3 linked regions of the Homo sapiens genome follow. The protein of the gene in region 1 purifies or fractionates together with the protein of each later gene. This does not show direct contact. Each region holds a gene or a part of one and is shown in the gene's direction. Other genes may lie near its edges.

Region 1 (7,032 bases):
ATAGAGGGAGACCCTGACTCTAAAAAAATAATGAGGCTGGGCGCTGTGGCTCACGCCTGTAATCCCAGCACTTTGGGACGCCGAGGTGGGTGGATCACAGGGTCAGGAGTTCTAGACCAGCTTGGCCAACAAGGTAAAACCCAGTCTCTACTAAAAATACAAAAATTAGCCGGGTGTGGTGGTGCACGCCTGTAATCCCAGCTACTGAGGGGGCTGAGACAGGAGAATCACTTGAACTTGGGAGGTGGAGGTTGCAGAGAGCCAAGGCCATGCCACTGTCCAGCCTGGGTGACAGAGCAAGACTCGTCTCAAAAAAAAAAAAAAAAGAAAAAAAGAAAAAGGACTTGTTGAGAATGTGATATGCAATTTGAGTATCTTGTGTGTGTTTTTTGTTTTAGAATTTTCCATTTCTTTGAATGGGACTGGATGGTAGGTGAGGGGGAACTTTTTAAGAGTCCCAGGCCGGGCACGGTGGCTCACGCCTGTAATCCCAGCTCTTTGGGAGGCCGAGGCAGACGGATCACCTGAGGCCAGAAGTTCGAGACCAGCCTGGCCAACATGGTGAAACCCCGTCTCTACTAAAAATACAAAAATTAGCCAGGCATGGTGATGGTGCATGCCTGTAACCTCAGCTACTCGGGAGGCTGAGGCAGGAGAATCACTTGAACTCGGGAGGTGGAGGTTGCAGTGAACCCAGATCACACCACTGCACTCCAGCGGCGACAGTGAGACTCTGTCTCAAAAACAAAACAAAAGAAAAAACCAGTCCTCTTAATGTTTAAAAAAAGTTGCTGTAACACTGTACTGGAGAATTTGTGAGAGCGTACACTGGACTGAGAGAAACTTGACTAGGAGGGAACGTAGGACAGTTGATTAGAACACCTGAACACTTCTCTTTGGGCAGGTGAATTTGGAGTGCTTGCAATGGCAATTGTATGCACTTCCATGGGAACGCTTTCAGATTGCTCCTGACCCCACTCAGATTGGTGACTAGAGTGTTACTGGGAATCCTTTTAAAAATTGTTTTTGTAGGCTGTGCGCGGTGGCTCACGCCTGTAATCCCAGCACTTTGGGAGGCCGAGGCGGGCGGATCACGAGGTCAGGAGATCGAGACCATCCTGGCTAACACGGTGAAACCCCATCTCTACTAAAAATACAAAAAATTAGCCAGGCGTGGTGGCGAGTGCCTGTAGTCCCAGCTACTCGGGAGGCTGAGGCCGGAGAATGGCGTGAACGCGGGAGGCGGAGCTTGCAGTGAGCCGAGATCGAGCTACTGCACTCCATCCAGCCTGGGCGACAGAGCAAGACTCTGTCTCAAAAACAAACAAACAAAACAACAACAACAAAAAAACCTTTCGTAGAGGAAAGAAGATTCTTAAGAATTTCAGTATAGTGTACCCCAGGAGATTGATTTTTGCAGATGTTAATTATGCTGTTGAAAAATAGTCTTTCTTTCACACATTTTGTAGTATTGTCTTTTCTAGGTGTAAGAAGTAGACCTTATGTGGTTGAGTGGATATAAATCCTCCAACTTGTTATAAACAGTTTGTTTGGGAGAAATAGCCAAGGGGATTTCCCTTTAAATCGAGGACGCTAAATGGATTCTCCCTGGCTTCGAGAAACTCTTTGTTGTATGCTTTATCTTTTACTTTGATTCATGACTGACCAGTTCTTACATCAAACATTTTTTTCCCCTTTGAAGTAAGAGAAGAGATACTTAAAAAAAAAAATGTAGTCTAGAAAGAGACTAGGAATAGAACACTGCTGACTTGTTCTTATACCAAGAGCTGGAGGCATAAACAGTTTTAATAAAAAAGAATACTTTGTATCTTTTGATGTAACTTCCCTTTAGAGATTCTGTTTCCCCTGTCTTAAATTCTCAGGCTATTTCTGATTGCTGTTTAAATAATTGGTAGTTACTATTTGAGTCATGCTTCTTAAAAAAAAAAGATATAAAAATTCGCCAGCTCAGCTTTCATTTAATTAGTATCAAAGAAATGTTATCTGTGGCAGTGAACATTAGTAGCTTGTTCCAGGGTTTATTGTAGGTTTGTTCAAGTCAGTACTGCCCATCTTGGCACTTAGGTTCTTGGAATACAGAGGTGGATAAGGTTTGCCCCTCAGGGCTTATGGTCTTCTGGGGATGAAGAAGGTCCAGACGCAGGAACAGAATTTTACTACAGTCATGATACGTGTTATCATAGTTGTATAAATCATAAACAGATATCCCAGTTGCTGCCTCTTGTCTAGTCATAGTTTCTCCTTTCACTCTCAACTGTCCTGGTTTGGAAGATAATTGTATGTGTTATGAAACAATGGGAACATTGAAAAGAGACATTTACCTCTGCCTGGCAGAGATCAGGGAAGGCTTCCTGGAGGAAGGTGCTTTCTGAGCTGAATCTTGAAGGGTAACTAGGAGTTAGGCCAATCACAGAGGGCATAAGCAGGAGCTGGTGACAACACATAGCAGGAGAGAAAGAGTCAGAGTGGGTGAGAGGGAGTGTGTGTATTTGCAACGTGTGGGAATTAGGTATATCTACAAATTATTGGAACATAAAGTTTGTAGAGTGTCACTGTGGATGGGTAGAGAGGCAGAGACCAGATTGTGAGGGTTCCATATGCCAGGCCAGTGAGCACCTACTCTGTGCCAGACATTGTAGGCATTACTTACATTGTCTCTAATCTGTCCAACAACTCGAGAGGAAGACATCAGTATCCTTCAAAAGAGAACCTAGGTTCAGGTTGGGTTGTAATTGCCCCAGTTTAGAATGTAAAAATTTGAATCTAACTCTAGATCCTGTTCTTTACCGGTGGGCCAGTGGACTTTGGAAGCTTCAGCTTTTGCAGTATGTGATTAAGGAGCTGTTGAAGGATTTTATTTGCTTTCTATTATTATTATTACTATTTTTTGAGACAGGGTCTCACTCTGTCACCCTGGCTGAAGTGCAGTGGTGCCATCACAGCTCACTGCAGCTTCCACTTCCTGGGCTCAGATGATTCTCCCACCTCAGCCTCCTGTGTAGCTGGGATTACGGGCATGAGCCACCATGCCCATCTAGTTTTTTGTATTTTTTTGTAGAGACAGGGTTTCACCATGTCGCCCAGGCTGGTTTTGAACTCCTAGGCTCAAGCAATCTGCCCACCTTGGCCTCCCAAAGTGCTGGGATTACAGGTGTGACCCACTTTACCCAGCCATATATATTTTTTAAATTCTTTAAAGAGATGAGGTTTCACTGTGTTACCCAGGCTGGAGTGCAGTGGCTATACACAGGCACGATCATAGTGCACTAGAGCCTGGAGCTCCTGAGCGCAGCAAGTGACCCTCCTGCCTCAGTCTCAGCTGAGACTATAGGTGTGCACCACCGTGCCTGGCCTGTTGAAGGATTTTAGAGCTGAAAGTGATGAGGGCAGGTTTGCTTTGCTGGGTTGACCTCAGTCTATAACATGTAAGTTCTACCAGAGCAGGGATTTGGTCTTGTTTACTGTGAATCCCTAGAATTGTGTCTGGCACAAGGTACGTGTTCCATGTGTTTGTTGAATGAAGGATGACAACAGAGTCAGAATGGATTTGAGGAAAGCAGGACTGGATGGAGGGATAAATATTAAGAGGCTGTTGTGTTGGGTCAGGTAAGAGACTGGTTTTGGGACTTGGCGGACAGATGAGCGAGAAAGATGACACCTGCGTTTCTGAATTAGGTGATTATACAGGCTGTCAATCAAGGTAGGGAATACAGGAAGAAGAGTGGGTCTGGAGAAGAGGTGAATTAGAGTTGCCAATTAGATGAATTAAGAGTAGAGCTGAATTAGAGTAGATAATGAAGGGGTATAGTCAGTACACAACTGAATATTTGAATCTGAAATTTGGGGGAGAAGTCAGAGCTAGAGGTAGAGATTAGGTAGTTATCAGAATTTAGGTAGTAGCTGAAACTGAGATGATAATGTTACCCATGGAGAATGGAAAATCTGAAAAGAGAAGCAAAGAATAGGACCATGGGAAATAGGGGTTTTATTTTAGTACCTTCTCCAAACCTTGACTTTGGTGCTGAGGTCTTATGTTCTTCCATAGAGAGTACCTTCCGCAGCAGACCTATCAGACGAGATCGGGCACATTCAGGGTGGTATGGCTGTAGACAGCAGCATCGTATCAGACTTCTTTATGTTTTGCTTGTGACAGCAGTACTTGGCTATGGCAGTTAAATGGACTGTAAGATGTTAGCTTGATTTGGAGTACCCTGAGTAGCTGCACAGGTAGACAAAGTACAAAGATATTGACAGCTTTTTTCTTCCTTTAGAAGAATAACATATCTAAAACAACTCTTAAAGCAAGAGAGCTGCAGTTGCACACTAAGAAAATACTGCAATACTGCCATGACTTGGTTATAGGTGATGCTAACATAAATGGGATATTCTGTTTCTCATTGCACCAGTCATGCAGAATCATAGCATCATGTGCCAGATGGCAGAACGTACTGTGGCAGTTAACACCACAAATTAACAACACAGTGGCAGAAAGCACCGTTTAAAAATATGGGTACTTGGCCAGGCGTGGTGGCTCACTTCTATAATCCCAGCACTTTAGGAGGCTGAGGCGGGCAGATCACCTGAGGTCAGGAGTTCGAGACTAGCTCTAGTCTCTACTAAAATACAAAAATTAGTGTGTGTGTGTATATATATATACTAATCAAACTTCCTTGGGAAAGAAAATGTGAATGCATTTCTGTGTCATACATTTCTTGTGCAGCACTATATATTCTGTGGTTTAGCAGTATTAACAGCATCAAGCTGAACAGTAACCAGTGTTGCTAAGGTCTCGCATACTATACCATGTATGCTGAGAAGATATGCATCCTTAGAATTGAGAATTAGAACATTTCAGTTAATTGCAGTAACTTTTCAGTAACTAGATATATGTGTAATTTGATTTCTGAAGTAATTTTAACTGTGGAAAAACTAAGTTGTCACCAGCGGTACCTCATAGCATAACTTTAGCCCATGATATATGGATGGATGGATATAAATGGAAATTGCACACTGAAATTAGGACGTTTATATTTCTTCAGGTATTAGAAAACTACTCGGATGCTCCAATGACACCAAAACAGATTCTGCAGGTCATAGAGGCAGAAGGACTAAAGGAAATGAGGTTTGTATTGTTCTTGTTGCTTAACATGAGGGTTTCATAGGATATGTGTCTTTCTGTAGTTGTAGTGATATGAGTAAGTACACCTGTGTATGTATTTGTGCTTCTGTGTCTGGTAGTGAGATGGAACTATCCATTTCCCAAATTGTGTGTCGTCTCAGTGGAGGGTGGCAGTGGGTGAACATCCATTTGTTTTCATTTAGAGGTGCAGTGGCTTTCCCCATCTCCTTGTTCTTCCTTAAATCTTGGCATAGAGCTTGTTTTTTGTGTAAGGAGTCAGGGCACATTTTCTCTTGTGCTGTTTTGGAAGTTTCAGACCTGATAGCCTCTATTGTGCCTAACGCTACCCTTTTCTCTATGCCGTATCACTGAAGTTCTTTCTTTTAGAATAAAAGAACAGTGGTCTCATCAACATAAAAAACCACTGACTTTTTTCCCCTTACTAATTGCAGTCATATATGATGTGAATTTACTAAATTTTGAGGTGACCTTTATTTTCCAAATTTATGGTGTAGTTTTCCTGGAGAAGTAACAAGTTAGAAACATAGAATTTGCAGGCTTGAAAGCCAGGACTATCTTTCATCTTTCTTTTTCCTCATCCTAACTTCAAACTTAAAAAAAAAAAAAAAAAAAGCTGGGGGTAGTGGCCCATGCCTGTAATCCCAGCACTTTGGGAGGCCAAGGCAGGCAGATCACTTAGGTCAGGAGTTCGAGACCAGCCTGGCCAACATGGCAAAACCCCGTCTCTACTAACAATACAAAGATTAGCCGGCATGGTGACGCATGCCTGTAGCCTGTAGTTCCAGCTTGGGAGGCGGAGGCTGGAGAATCGCTTGAACTCAGGAGACGGAGGTTGCAGTGAGCCGAGATTGCACCACTGCACTCCAGCCTGGACAACAGAATAAGACTGCATCTCAAAAAACAAAACAAAACAAAAAACAAAGAAAGTACTTAAATGAGGAAAGAGGAGAGCACTACACAGTCCTTGCCTGGGACTCAGAGCAAACTTCATGTTTTTGCTAGTCAAACTTAGCTGCTTTAATTGACCTTTTAGGGTCAAAAGGCCTTCACTTTCCAGTTGTCAGTTCAAACGTTCTCAAGTTGATGTTTTGTGGGGAGGGAAGATTGAGATTGTCTACATCACATTTATTTGACTTGTACTTATCCACTGTGTAGTGTTATAATTGTGCTTTATTTTTGTTTTTATGGGCTATTTCCCATCATGCTGCTGTCTGCACTGCTGTTGGACCACTTTGCCTATAGAAGGTAAATGAGTCCCTTTGGGACATATGGAATTGAGAACCTTAACTTGTTTCTGCTTCTTGTTCTTAGAGGAATTATGAAGCAGTCATGATGGCTCATGATGAGTGAGCAGCTCTGTAATTTGTAGACAGAGGTATAATATGTAGGAGTCACAGAAGAGCTGTGCCAGCATGCTGTTCCCCTTGTAGCAGAGATGCTAGCACACCCACTTGATACTCCAGATTTTGCATAGGGTTTCTTTTAGAGATTGGTTCTTGGTGAAAAATTTTTTAGCATCCAGTGTGTTCCAAGGCAAAATAAGTAATAGTTTTTTAATGGTTTTTTTAGACTCAGAATTTATTTTTAACACTGCATAAATTAGGGCTTCTAGTTCTGAAAAATGCAAAGAGGCTTACTTAAGCTATTTATATATTTTTTAACATGCTGGGGAGAGGGAAGAGAGGGTGCACAGGTGACTCCTAGCACTAATATGCTAGTGCCAAACTCAGTTAATATTAATAATGGTCATTTGTTGATATTTTTGGTAGCTTTTCTATTTAAAGATTCAGTAAGTAGCATCCTTTGCACTGAATTGTCACGTTTTGTAACCTGCTGTTGTGGCAGGGACCATGAAACAACTTAGTATGCCA
Region 2 (6,406 bases), on another chromosome or scaffold:
TTCGAAAGGAGGCCGCCAAAAATAAAAGGCAAAGAGACGGGATCGGCTGCAGCGGTTTCCCAAAGGAGGAGGGAGTGTGCATCGGTCTGGTAACAAACAGAGAATGTTTTTTAATTATTTATATCACAAAAATCTGTGTTTTATCTAGGATATTTTCTGAATATTCTTTGTAAAATGCAGATTTTTTTCCACAAAACAGTAGGATTCTTTGTTATATTCTTAAAATTGTTTGTTTAAGTAGGTAAAAATATACATTCAGCTGAAAGCATTACACTAACATTTACATTTTAAGCCTTAGGAGGTTATTCAGCCCAATTCCCAGCAGTAGAGAGAATACTAAACTTGTGTCTCAAGGTTTCATGGTTTTCCCACGTTCTTTGGCTATTAATTTAATTTCCCAGGTCACGTAGACAATCATTGATAATTGAAACAAGTCCTGAGTTGAAATAACCTTGAGTTGAGCAAAAATATCCTCATTTTGGCAGAAGCTGGGCTTGGTAGTACAGTAAAATTTTAGTGTAATGTGCTCTTGTAATTGAAAGGGGATAGATAATCTGGATGTTTCTGCAAAGGAAAATAGGTGTGTACTTAACAGCTTTGGCTCTACTCAGTTTCTTAAAAAGATAAGAGCAAAAAAAGTTAAATGTTAATCAAAACATTTAAGTTTCCTTTAAATTGTAGTAATAAAATATATGAAGCTCCTTTTTTTACTTTGCTCTGTGACTGGTTTAAAGGTAAGTTTGTTATGTTGTTGGTAGATTTTGCCAGGCTTCTCCCAACAGAGTAGAAGTGATTTGGCCTCATAACTTCACAGTGGTTTACCACTTTGTTCTATGTTCTGGTTTTGTAAAGGATAGTACTGGAATTTGCGTCTGAAGACCAATATTGGTGTAACTCCTGTCAGTATATTGGTAAAATGTAGCAGAGGCAGGAGTTTGGATGTTTGGATGGGATTCCCTTAGGATTCTACAGCCAATAAAGATCCTATTTCCTATGCATGTCCCAGGAATCAGTAATCCTCTTTTACTCTGTTGGGATGAGTCTTTTTTTGTTTCTGTTCAGAGTGGTTACTAACTTCACCTTCTTTCCTCTTGCTGTCATCTGCATTCGTGCTTCCCACCTGTTGTTGGCATGTCCTTTACCTTCTCTTTCCCTGCCACATCAACCTACACACTGACTCATCATTGACGTGGAAGATGTGGAAGATGTCAAGTTTGTGATCAACTATGACTATCCAAACAGCTCAGAGGATTATGTGCACCGTATTGGCCGAACAGCCCGTAGCACCAACAAGGGTACCGCCTATACCTTCTTCACCCCAGGGAACCTAAAACAGGCCAGAGAGCTTATCAAAGTGCTGGAAGAGGCCAATCAGGCTATCAATCCAAAACTGATGCAGCTTGTGGACCACAGAGGAGGCGGCGGAGGCGGGGGTAAGGGTAAGTCCTGGAGTTTTCCAGGTACTGCCAAGGTATCTCTTTACGCCTTCTGTGACTTGCTTTTAGTTGCTGTTTTTAAGAAGGCTGTAAGTATGTTGCTTAATAGCAAAGGACACTGCCTAATGCTTTTTATAACCTTTTTCAACTAAGAAAACGTGAAGTTTGTTGTGATAGTCCTATTAGTTAAGCTAAATTGTGAATTTTTTTTTCTTAGAGACTGGTCTGAGGTTTGGTTTTGTTTGTTTGTTTGTTTTGAGACGGAGTCTTGCTCTGTCGCCCAGGCTGAAGTGCAATGGCGCGATCTCAGCTCATTGCAACCTCTGCCTCCCAGGTTCAAGTGATTCTCCTGCCTCAGCCTCCCAAGTAGCTGGGATTACAGGCACCCGCCAGCACACCCTGCTAATTTTTGTATTTTTAGTAGAGGTGGAGTTTCACCATGTTGGCCTGGCTGGTCTCGAACTCCTGACCTCTGGTGATCCACCTGTCTTGGCCTCCCAAAGTGCTGAGATTACAGGAGTGAGCCACCAAACCTAGCTGAGGCTGGTCTGTGGAGTTTCACCATGTTGGCCTGGCTGGTCTCGAACTCCTGACCTCTGGTGATCCACCTGTCTTGGCCTCCCAAAGTGCTGAGATTACAGGAGTGAGCCACCAAACCTAGCTGAGGCTGGTCTGAGTTTTAATGTGGTTGCTTTGGCGGGGCGGGGGCAGAGACAGTCTCACTCTGTTGCCCAGACTGGAGTGCAGTGGCACGATCTCGGCTCACTTCAACCTCTGCCTCCTGGGTTCAAGTGATTCTCCTGCTTCAGCCTCCCAAGTAGCTGGTACTACAGGTATGTGCCACCATGTCCAGCTAATTTTTGTATTTTTTGTAGAGACAGGGTTTCACCATGTTGGCTGGTCTTGAACTGCTGACCTCAAGTGACCCTCCTGCCTTGATCTCCCAAAGTGCTGGGATTACGAGAGTGAGCCAGTGTGCCCCCGGTCATGGTTGCTTTTTTAATACTTTCAAAAATGCTTAGTAGTATATTAGGTTTCCAGTTTTCCATACGGAGAGGTCAGTCATTTTACACTGTTTAGTGGTGGGTAGAAACTGAGACATAGCAGTTGCATCTACAGTTGCAGAATATCCTAGGATCTGGGCTTCCTGACTCAAGGTTTCATATTGTAATACCGTGTTTCTTGATCATCCTCAAGTAAGGGGCCTAAAAGGGTGAAAAGGTCTAGTGTCCTTTAATTTTTACTGTGCTTTTGAATGTGCCCCATTAAAGAATCAAATTATGAGTATATTTTTACAGTACTAATTGGGAGGCTGGCCAGCATAACTAAATATCAAGGAGACATGTTTAATACTTTTGTACCCAGTAGAATTTTTACATTGTTATGTTTAGGTCCTATATCTGCCATTAAAAATCTTCTTGTATCTTCCCATTAGGTGGTCGTTCTCGTTACCGGACCACTTCTTCAGCCAACAATCCCAATCTGATGTATCAGGATGAGTGTGACCGAAGGCTTCGAGGAGTCAAGGATGGTGGCCGGAGAGACTCTGCAAGCTATCGGGATCGTAGTGAAACCGATAGAGCTGGTTATGCTAATGGCAGTGGCTATGGAAGTCCAAATTCTGCCTTTGGAGCACAAGCAGGCCAATACACCTATGGTCAAGGCACCTATGGGGCAGCTGCTTATGGCACCAGTAGCTATACAGCTCAAGAATATGGTGCTGGCACTTATGGAGCTAGTAGCACCACCTCAACTGGGAGAAGTTCACAGAGCTCTAGCCAGCAGTTTAGTGGGATAGGCCGGTCTGGGCAGCAGCCACAGCCACTGATGTCACAACAGTTTGCACAGCCTCCGGGAGCTACCAATATGATAGGTTACATGGGGCAGACTGCCTACCAATACCCTCCTCCTCCTCCCCCTCCTCCTCCTTCACGTAAATGAAACCACTCAAGTGGTAGTGACTCCAGCAGACTTAATTACATTTTAAGGAACACTGTCTTTCCTTTTTTTTTCCTCTTCGCCTTTTCTTTTTTTTTCCTTTTTTCTTTTTTTTTTTTTAATTTTTCCCCCCAACCATCGTGATTTGTCTTTTCATGCAGATTAGTTAGAATTCACTGCCAGGTTTCTTCTGCCCACCAAAATGATCCAGTCTGGAATAACATTTTGTAAAAAAAAAAAAAATATATATATATATATATAGCTGACTGGAAGAGATTAATTTCTTCCCCCAACTTCTTGCATGTTGAAGATATTTGAGCTATTTTTCATCTAAAAGAGTAAGGTATTAGGCCCTTTTGTGGGAGCCCCATGTTTTGTTTTTCTGAGTTGGTGGGGAGGGAGGGAGGGGGAGGGCTGAATTGTTTTGCAGAGGAAGATGGCATCTGTGCTTTAAATTTCTCATTACTGGGTTAGAAAACAAAGAGGGATTGCCCTGCACATTTTCTTTTGTGCTTTTAAATGTTTCTTAAGTTGGAACAGGTTTCCTCGGGCCTGTTTTGACTGATTGCTGGAGTGCATTTGATAGTTAAAAATTACTAATTGGTTTTATTTCCCTTCACACTCTGCCTCCCCACTTCTCCCCCCGTTACTGAAAAATAACCATTTTAGTGTCAGGCTAGAAATTGAATTGCTGAGTTTTGTGTATCCTTTAAATTAAAAACCACAAGTGTTTATTGTAGTGGTTAAACTGTAGCATCTCAGCATCTGGGTGGAAGCTGCCTATATTTCTTCCCAGTTTAACTGGGGACCATCTGTGAAATTAATTTTCCATCCAGACAGCTGCTGTGAGCAAATGAACATAAATGCTCGCTGGAAATTTACTAACCAGTTTTTATATTGACCTGCAGTGTAAAAAGCACATTTAATTATAAACAATATATTCAAAATGGGCAAATTTTATTTTCAAATGCAGTGTAGAGCTAGATTAAAAGCAACTCTTTGCCACCTACTCTGCCCTTTTGGCAAAGTTACCTTGAACAAAGAATCTTAAGGGTTTATTAAGAACTCTTTATTTTCTTCATACCCTGTTCTCTGCAGTGCTTTCTAACAGCTTCTGGGTGCAGATTTTCTTCGGCATCCTTTTGCACTCAGCTTATTACAGGTAGGTAGTGCTTAAGAAAAGTCATGGAGGACTAAAGCCTAAGTCCTTTTCACTTTTCCTCCATCTGAAGGTAGGTGAGTTCATCCTCTTCATGGTAATGCTGTTTTACCAAGACTTTATAGCAGATGGACCCAGAAAGAATTTTCTGCTATTGTGTTCACTACAACAGGATAGGGACATCAGACAGCCCCAGAAACCCCTTCCAGATCTGATATGGGACTATTAATTTTTATGCTGTTAATTGGTATTCATTCACAATGCAGTTGAAGGGGGAAGGCTCCACTGCATTCTTTGGCTAAGGCCTGAATGCTTGCTCATCTGTAAGATCTATACTCGAGGTTTTGTTTTCCTTTTAAAATTCTTTAGGGAGAGAGGGATGGTTTCTGAGGGGTTCTGAAAGTATGATTCAATGTGCAACATACAGGTAGGTCTTCAGCATAAGCTGAAATATATGCATGTAAAAACTTTGACATCTTTTTTTTTAATTTTCCACTTTCTTCTTAACTTTACTTCTCTTTTTGTCCCCCCCCCATCTTACAGAAGTTGAGGCCAAGGGAGAATGGTAGGCACAGAAGAAACATGGCAAACTGCTCTGTGCTTTCAAACCAAAGTGTTCCCCCCAACCCCAAATTTGTCTAAGCACTGGCCAGTCTGTTGTGGGCATTGTTTTCTACAACCAAATTCTGGGTTTTTTTCTTCTTTCTTTAAACATAGAGGTACCACCACAAGGGATGCCCTACTCTCTCGCAGCTCTTGAAAGCATCTGTTTGAGGGAAAGGTCTCTGGGCAAGCAAGTGGTTATTTGGATTGCTTGCTTCCCTTTTTCCACCTGGGACATTGTAATCATAAAATAACAGTAAATTCCAAACCTCAAAAACTATTATGGCCTGAGCACAGCTGAAATCTAGCAGAGTTTAACTCTTCTGCCTCCATGTCTGTCACTTATAATTCAGGTTCTGCTGTTGGCTTCAGAACATGAGCAGAAGAATCGTTTTATGCTAGTTATTGCATTCATGGTTGAAACTCAACTTAGGGAAAGGGTTCCAATGTATTAAGCAATGGGCTGCTTCTCCCCAATCCTCCCTAACAATTCGTTGTGTGGACTTCTCATCTAAAAGGTTAGTGGCTTTTGCTTGGGATCAGTGCTCTCTATTGATGTTCTTGCTGGTCTCCAGACACATTCCTGTTGCATTAAGACTTGAAAGACTTGTAGATGTGTGATGTTCAGGCACAGGATGCTGAAAGCTATGTTACTATTCTTAGTTTGTAAATTGTCCTTTTGATACCATCATCTTGTTTTCTTTTTGTAGGTATAAATAAAAACACTGTTGACAATAAGGTGTGAGCTTTTATTGCTTAATTCTCTGAATAATTCAACGTAGACGTCTTAAAACAGTTTTTGTTTCAAGACAAAGATGGGGGATATTGGATTGACTGATTACTTTCGCACCTAAAACTGAAAGGAAAAAACTTAATACAAGAATTGGAATTGAAAACCCTAGCAGGATACCTAGTAGGTAAGGGTTTGGATATATCTGTATCTGCTCATAAGTAAAACAGTGATTGTGCAAATGGTACTCGCCTAAGTACCATTAGGTTATTGGTATTAAGGTACTAAGTACAAGGCAGGTATCAGCCACTGGTTTGAAAAAATTCAAACCAGTAAAAGATGAGTCACAAAACTCCTCCAGCCAAACCTGGTAAATTTGGTTTGCTTCTGGCCTGAAGGCAGTGTGAAAGTGAAATAAGTTTCACACTTAAAACTAGCTGACACCTTTATATCTTGACCACCTAAATTTGGTCATCTACCTGGAAAGTGGAAATTCACAAGAACGTACCCTAATATTTTAACTGGTCTTTAGTTGGGACA
Region 3 (7,032 bases), on another chromosome or scaffold:
ACATCATGGTCACCATCCGCCCCCATGTCTTGACTCCTTTTGTAGAAGAATGTCTAGTAGCTGTAAGTTGTAACTTGCCCTAATGAAGTGGTTTAACTCAGTAAATAAGGAATTATAAAAACAATTCTTATAAGTTATGTAGTGTTTTTTTTCTGTTGCAAACACTAACATTTTAATGTGATCACATACATTACTAAACTCAAACAAAGAGTGTGTTTTGGCTAGTTTTAGTGGGTAGGTTAATTTGTTGTCTGGGTAATACGGAATATCTTCGAGAAATACATTAGCTTTTTAAAGATAAAAGGAAAAACAGATTTGTGATCTCATGTTAATTTTGTTTTAGATTTTGAAGTATATCAAGGGCTGATTTTTGCTAATCTTCTTAGATGCTCTAAGGCAAAAAAAAAAAAAAAATAGTGCACATGTATATCATTTGTTAGAGTAGTTAGCACAACAGAAACTCCAAACCTTAGATTCCCTTTCACCGTGTATGTGTCGAGGCCACAGAGTTACATGTGACAGCAGAGCCCTGCAGTTGTGTTTCATGGAGCCTCCCTCCTCCAGGTGTCAGCTGCTGTCCTTCCCTCATGGGCCCTGGGGATGTCCTGCAACATTCTGTGGTGGTGGTTCTTAAGACCTGCTCGTGGAGCACCAGAATCACCACTAAAAACTATTAAAACTACAGATTCTGAGATCTCTTCTAGGCCTATCATACACCATCTATAGGCGATGAGGTCTTAGAATCTAATTTTGTAAAGCTTCTGGGTGATTTTGGTAATAACTCAGTTTTAGGACCAATAGCCCGTGGTAACTCTCCTTTTGTTAATCCCAGGGAGAATACTGTTTTCACCATCATCTGGGTTTCCCACAGTGCTTACCATAGGCAGGAACTCAGAGTAGCCTTTCAGTTTCCTTTCTTCCCCCAAGTCCTTAGTTCTAGAGACATGGTATTCCAACGAGGCCTCTTCCATTCTGGCACTGTGTTAATCTAACTCCTTTTCTTGGGCGCCCCCTTCTCTACTCCATACTAAACTTTCATGTCAGCTATTTTAAATGATTACTAAGTGAAGATTTATGTGGTTGTTACCTTGTAAAGAAGTGCTTTCCTAATAAAAATATTTTGCCTTGCTAGGGAAGGATAGAATTTGAAACTCCAAACTGAAGTCTCATTCATAATGGACATTCTGTCTGTTTCCCTTGTCCCCTGTGAAGAAATATGGTTTCTTAAAAATTCTGATTATCAGAATTTTTACTAGTCTTAACCCCCCATGAAAGTATATGGCATCTCATAATTTTACCATAATATGCTTGTTTGCTAGAAATCCCACCAATGTAAAGTCTGTACCTAAATGATTATTTATTACTGGTTATAAGTAACTTGACAAGTCTTGATATTAATGTTACATTGACTACTTTTCATAGTATGTTTGCATTGATACAATACAGTTTTTCATGCATAAGCACACACATGTGTGCATATGTACTTATAGTTTTTGCATGTTTAAGCCTTTAAGATTTGCTCATTAGATGAAATAAACCAACTTATAAAACATTTCCAATTGAAATTTGAACTCTAAATTACTACTAGTCCTGTTATAATCCTACACATGTATTTATTTAGTTTTCTAGGAGTTGTGTATGGAGAGTACAAGTTCTGGTCATGATTAGTTGCAGTTGCTTCTAAAAATCATTTATAGCTTTTTTTTAATGCAAAAGAAAAATACTTATAGTCATTTCTTCTTGTACATGCATTTTTGATTACTTTCAAACTAGTTTTAGATGTATGTACTTCTGAATCATCTATAAATCTTTTGTATATTTTTCTTCTCTCTTGTTTTCAATTTATTTGAGGCTGCTGGAGGTACCACATCCCATCAAGTTAGTTTCTCCTATTTTAATGGATTTAATTCGCTCCTTAACAACATGGAACTCATTAGAAAGATCTATAGCACTCTGGCTGGCACCAGGAAAGATGTTGAAGTGACTAAGGGTGAGTGAGAATATATCTGAATTCTAGCCTGCAAGTATTGTGGTGTATTATTATTAGGGTGAAGAAGGCAACTAGTACTTTATTATTTTTCTATCCCATTGACACATATTAACTATATGATAACGTGTGTTTTTCATCCTTTGATCAGACAAACAAAAGCAAACAAAACAATCTTCACCAAGTTTTAAACAAACTGGGCCCAGCTTGGTGACTCACACCTGAAATCCCAGCAGTTTGGGAGGCCGAGGTGGGTGGATCACCTGAGATCAGGAGTTCGAGACCAGCCTGGCCAAGAGGGTGAAACCCTGTCTCTACTAAAAATACAAACATTAGTCGGGTGTGGTGGTGGGCACCTGTAATCCCAGCTACTTGGGAGGCTGAGGCAGAAGAATCGCTTGAACCTGGGAGGCGAAGGTTGCAGTGAGCCGAGATCACGCCACTGCACTCCAGCCTGGGCAACAAGAGCAAAATGCCATCTCAAAAATAAATAAATAAATAAATAAATAAACTGAAGACACCCTTTGAATAAGGAAAACATGTAAAGTTTCTTAAATATTTTCAAATCTTGCTACAGCTTGAGCTAAATTGGCAACCTCTAAGGAAGCCTTCAGGTGTATATGAGGAATTCCATAAAGTTGCATTGGTGACAGTGTAAGTTGGTCTGTAGGCTTGGGACAGGATATTATCAGCATTGTAATGGGATTAAGAAAAAAAATCAGAGCCGGTGCGGTGGCTCATGCCTGTAATCCCAGCACTTTGGGAGGCCGAGGCGGGCAGATCATGAGGTCAGGAGATTGAGACGATCCTGGCTAACACGGTGAAACCCCGTCTCTACTAAAAATGTATATATAAAAAAATTAGCAGGGCATGGTGGCACACACCTGTAGTTCCAGCTCCTTGGGAGGCTGAGGCAGGGGAATCGCTTGAACCCAAGAGTCGGAGGTTGTAGTGAACCGAGATTGCACCACTGCACTCCAGCCTGGGCAACAGAGCAAGACTCTGTCTCAAAAAAAAAAAAAAAAAAAATCAGAATTCCCTTAGGAATTCCACACCTTCATTAATATAACCACCTAAATTAATATAATTAATAATCCTAATTTAACCAGTTAATTAGATTAATATAACTTCCCCTCCTGGGACCTATGCATATGAAGTTTCATATATGATTCCTTATTTTCTCTGATTGGCAATTTGAATAACATCAGATGACCCCAAGCTTTTAAACTGTATATTCAAGAACATATTCTGCACACGCTTTCCAAATGGATGCAAGAACTGCAAAAATTCTTACCTTATTTGGATTGACTTGAATTCTACAACTGATGATAATAATAAAGTTTTGTGATGTTCACTCATTCCAGTGCCTTGAGTTAATGCTGAATTTAGTGGCTATTTCTTCTTGAATCTTTCCCTTTTAACTTTTCTTCCATACAGAGGAGTTTGTTCTGGCAGCTCAGAAATTTGGTCAGGTTACACCCATGGAAGTTGACATCTTGTTTCAGTTAGCAGATTTATATGAGCCAAGGGGGTAAGTTGGCTTTTTTTTTTTTTTTTTTGGAATTAGCTTAATAAAAGGAGGTTAGGAGGAGGGCAGCAATCAGGAGAAAAAGAAGCCAAACTGAAGGCTATACTGAAATATGAGAAATGAAAAAAGGGATGTTTTTAAATTTTATAATGTAAATTGTAATAAATTGGTATATTTGTTGCTTGTGTTTGTTTTTCCCCTACAGACGTATGACCTTAGCAGACATTGAACGGATTGCTCCTCTGGAAGAGGGAACTCTGCCCTTTAACTTGGCTGAGGCCCAGAGGCAGGTGAGCAAAGAGGAGCAAACTTGCATTCTGGGGTTTCCTTAGCAGGATACCCCAACCCTGTTCCACTTGCAGTTGCCTTTGCGGCATTGGTATCTGACTTAACCATTTTTCTGTTTTGCACCAAAACTCTCGATAAATTTTAAAGGCTGTAAAGAGAAATTGCTTAGAAATGGTGTGATAAACAGGTATTTGGCATTTGCTCATTTCTTGCTAAGGTGGAGTGATTTCCTAACTGCACCAGAAGCCTAATGCTCCGAAAACATGAAGGAGGTCTTTTCTCCTTTCTTGAAGTCTCATGTTGAGAGATGTAGCGAAAGAATCCCGTGTTGGTGTCACTGTGCCTGTCGGCAGCTGCACGTTGCTAAATGAAAGCCGTCTTTGCTCTGTGGAGCAGCCCTTCATCAGCGCATCGTCTAACTGCCATGCCTTCCGTTTTTCTGAATATCAAAATGAGATAATTTTGTTTAGTCTGGAGTTACAGTTTAAAGGCTTTCAGACCTATTTTCTCTGTGAAAGGATTCATAAGTTATATGGAAACAATTTTAGGAATGCTAAATTTTATTTTATGGTTAACAGAAACCAATCTCTTGAAGTTGTGGGAGTCAGAAACTTAAGACATGGAACTTTCTCCTTTAACTCTTACCCAGCTTTCTGTAGATCAGGATTAGAGAAGAAAAGCCTTCATAGCATGTGTTAGTAAAATAAATGGTGTTTGTAAAATAAATCCACTCACAGGCGAGTGTCGTTTTTAGAAAAATTTCTCCTTTTAGGCAGAGCCATCTCTGAATCCTGTGAGACTTCGCAGTTTCTGGCATGGAGCTCTGGGTTTGTACAGAGACGCCAGTGTGACCACAATGGGTTGCTGCAGGCTACACTTTTAGGACTGTCAGACCTTGAGCCAGGGCCCCCTTCTTTTAGCTCTTTCCCACCCAAATGCAGCGGTGAGTTTTGTGTGCAGCATGCAAGTCAAAGTAGTGGGTGTGTGCTCAGTAAATTCTAACGAGCACCTCTGGAAAACCAGCTGGCCTTGCTTAAAAGAGGAAGCCGATTTCTCTGAGTGCAGGAGAAATAACTATAATCACGTGTAGAGGTGGAAGCAACACTGCTCTCCCTTCCCTTTGATTTTTAACACTGCTTAGGAGATGATTATCTCTTCGTCTGTATGCCACCAGCTATTGTAGAAATTTGGGGATTAAGAGAAGCAGAGAAGTTTTTTTTAGATCCCTCCTACTCTTCAGCTGGCAGCGGCTTCCCACAATTTTTCCTTTAAGCTCTTTGCAGCTTTTGAGAGTTTATGATGGGTGCTTGTTGATACTGGCCATGAAAGGGTTAGACCAGATTGATGAGATTTATAGCAGGAAATGATTCGCTGCCGCTTAGAGGTTTAGAGCAATTCACAATGGCCTTACCTGGAATAGGCTTTTTACTGCATGAACCCTAGTGGGCCCGACAAATTCAAGCAAGGGAGGTCGTCCACCTGTGGGCACAGCGCTGCCTGTCCAGCACTGTGCAGCACTTGTAGCATTTATCCTGGACAGAGGAGTGAAGGAGCAGAGTTTTGTCTCATTTCAAGAACATGCTACAGTTCTGGCTTTGGAAAAGTTAAATAAAAGTCTAGGATTTCATTTGTCTTTTAGGAGAGGAATTAATGGTGGTGGTAGGTCCCTCCTCCCCCCACCCTCTATAATTTTCAGAGTATTTTCACTCATTATTTTGATGCCAGAACATTTCTAAGTATTGCATATTTATATCCCTGTAAATAAAATATTGCTTCTCTTTTGGATGCATCTGTCAAAATGAAGGTACTATTGATTTCCATCTATATAGGGCTACAGTTGGAAACAACTCATAGAATTTGCAAAAGAAATGTTTTGTATCTTAAAGAGGCATATTTCTATGTAAAGCTATTTTCAGTTAAGTGACTTTGAAGGAGATTCCAAATGATCTCATTGTATTAGAATTGTGTTACATTGACAGCAACTAAAATTCAGTGGGTTGATAGCTGGGGTTGCTGATTATTTTCATTGTTCACTGATTTTAATTATCATGGATTCTGAAAAACAAATTTTATTGAATGTATGTATTCATTCAACAGGTATTTATTAAGCACTGACTATATGTCACCCTCATTTGACAACTCTCTGTGACATAAAATTACTGTTTTATTTATGCAGACAGAGAAGTGCAGCACTCTGAAATGTTCTGGCATCAAAAACACTGTGAGGATAATAGGTCAAAAGAACCAGAAAACAATGACTGACTGACCTGAAGTATGAATTTAGAAAAGATGGACAAAAAAAGAGAAAAAGTAACGATCAACTGTAATACAGCCACCTAGTTTTAGCTACTGTAAATGTTTTGAGTATCTCTGGGTGGTAGGGAGGCAAAATATTAGTATTAATTTTATATGCATATATATGTAAACCTCTTACAAGCATTTTTAATAAAAAGTGACATCATTTTGTATATAGTCTTAAAAATTGTTTTTAAAAAAATTACCAGGAAATAGGTCAAACATTTAAATAGGTACAAAGAATCATATGACAAATACCTATCTACTTACCATGCTCTTTTTAGCCTATGTTTTCTTTTATAATTCCTTGTGAACATTTAATATCAAATATTCTTTTACAGTATCATTTTGAATGATAGGGTTTTGTTTTAAAGTTATTATTTTTAAAGGCTATAGTCCTCCGTTATTGGACATTTAGAATATTTCCCAAATTTTTGTTCTTTTTGTTTAAAGAGCAAAAATTTGGGAAATAATCGAAATTTCCAATAAGTACTACAAATGTTTTTTAAGTGCTACATTCTTGTAGCTTGTTACATGCATGATTATCTTCTATCCTAACTTTTTTCTTTTTGAGACGGAGTTTCACTCTTCTTGCCCAGGCTGGAGTGCAGTGGCGCGATCTTGGCTCACTGCAGCCTCCGCCTCCCAGGTTCAAGTGATTCTCCTGCCTCAGCCTCCCAAGTAGCTGAGATTACAGGCATGCGCCACCACGTCCGGCTAATTTTTTATTTTTAGAAGAGACGGGGTTTCTCCATGGTGGTCAGGCTGGTCTCGAACTCCTGACCTCAAGTGATCCACCCACCTCGGCCTCCCAAAGTGCTGGGATTACAGGTGTGAGCCACTGCACCCAGCCTATTCTAACTTCAGAGGTTATGTACATTTTAAGGGTTTGGGTGTATATTACTAAACATCTCTCTATTTATGCTTGCTTTAA

The links. Proteins that work in one complex are often made in the same cells at the same time.
Region 2: the proteins of ASXL1 (region 1) and DDX17 purify together in Homo sapiens (affinity purification with western blotting; 2 studies listed by BioGRID, with this or other methods). This does not show direct contact.
Region 3: the proteins of ASXL1 (region 1) and SLC25A13 purify together in Homo sapiens (affinity purification with mass spectrometry, with the first as the bait; 2 studies listed by BioGRID). This does not show direct contact.

Annotation. Positions count from the first base shown.
Region 1 is NC_000020.11:32,361,324-32,368,355, forward strand, and holds part of ASXL1 (polycomb group protein ASXL1), read left to right. Parts: intron 1-5,060; coding exon 5,061-5,143; intron 5,144-6,403; coding exon 6,404-6,406; intron 6,407-7,032.
Region 2 is NC_000022.11:38,482,906-38,489,311, reverse strand, and holds the end of DDX17 (probable ATP-dependent RNA helicase DDX17 isoform 1 precursor), read left to right. Parts: intron 1-1,196; coding exon 1,197-1,433; coding exon of another isoform or gene 1,434-1,439; intron 1,440-2,871; coding exon 2,872-3,377; 3' UTR 3,378-5,874; downstream 5,875-6,406. UniProt on the Homo sapiens protein: As an RNA helicase, unwinds RNA and alters RNA structures through ATP binding and hydrolysis.
Region 3 is NC_000007.14:96,186,067-96,193,098, reverse strand, and holds part of SLC25A13 (electrogenic aspartate/glutamate antiporter SLC25A13, mitochondrial), read left to right. Parts: coding exon 1-62; intron 63-1,851; coding exon 1,852-1,990; intron 1,991-3,424; coding exon 3,425-3,518; intron 3,519-3,720; coding exon 3,721-3,805; intron 3,806-7,032. UniProt on the Homo sapiens protein: Mitochondrial electrogenic aspartate/glutamate antiporter that favors efflux of aspartate and entry of glutamate and proton within the mitochondria as part of the malate-aspartate shuttle.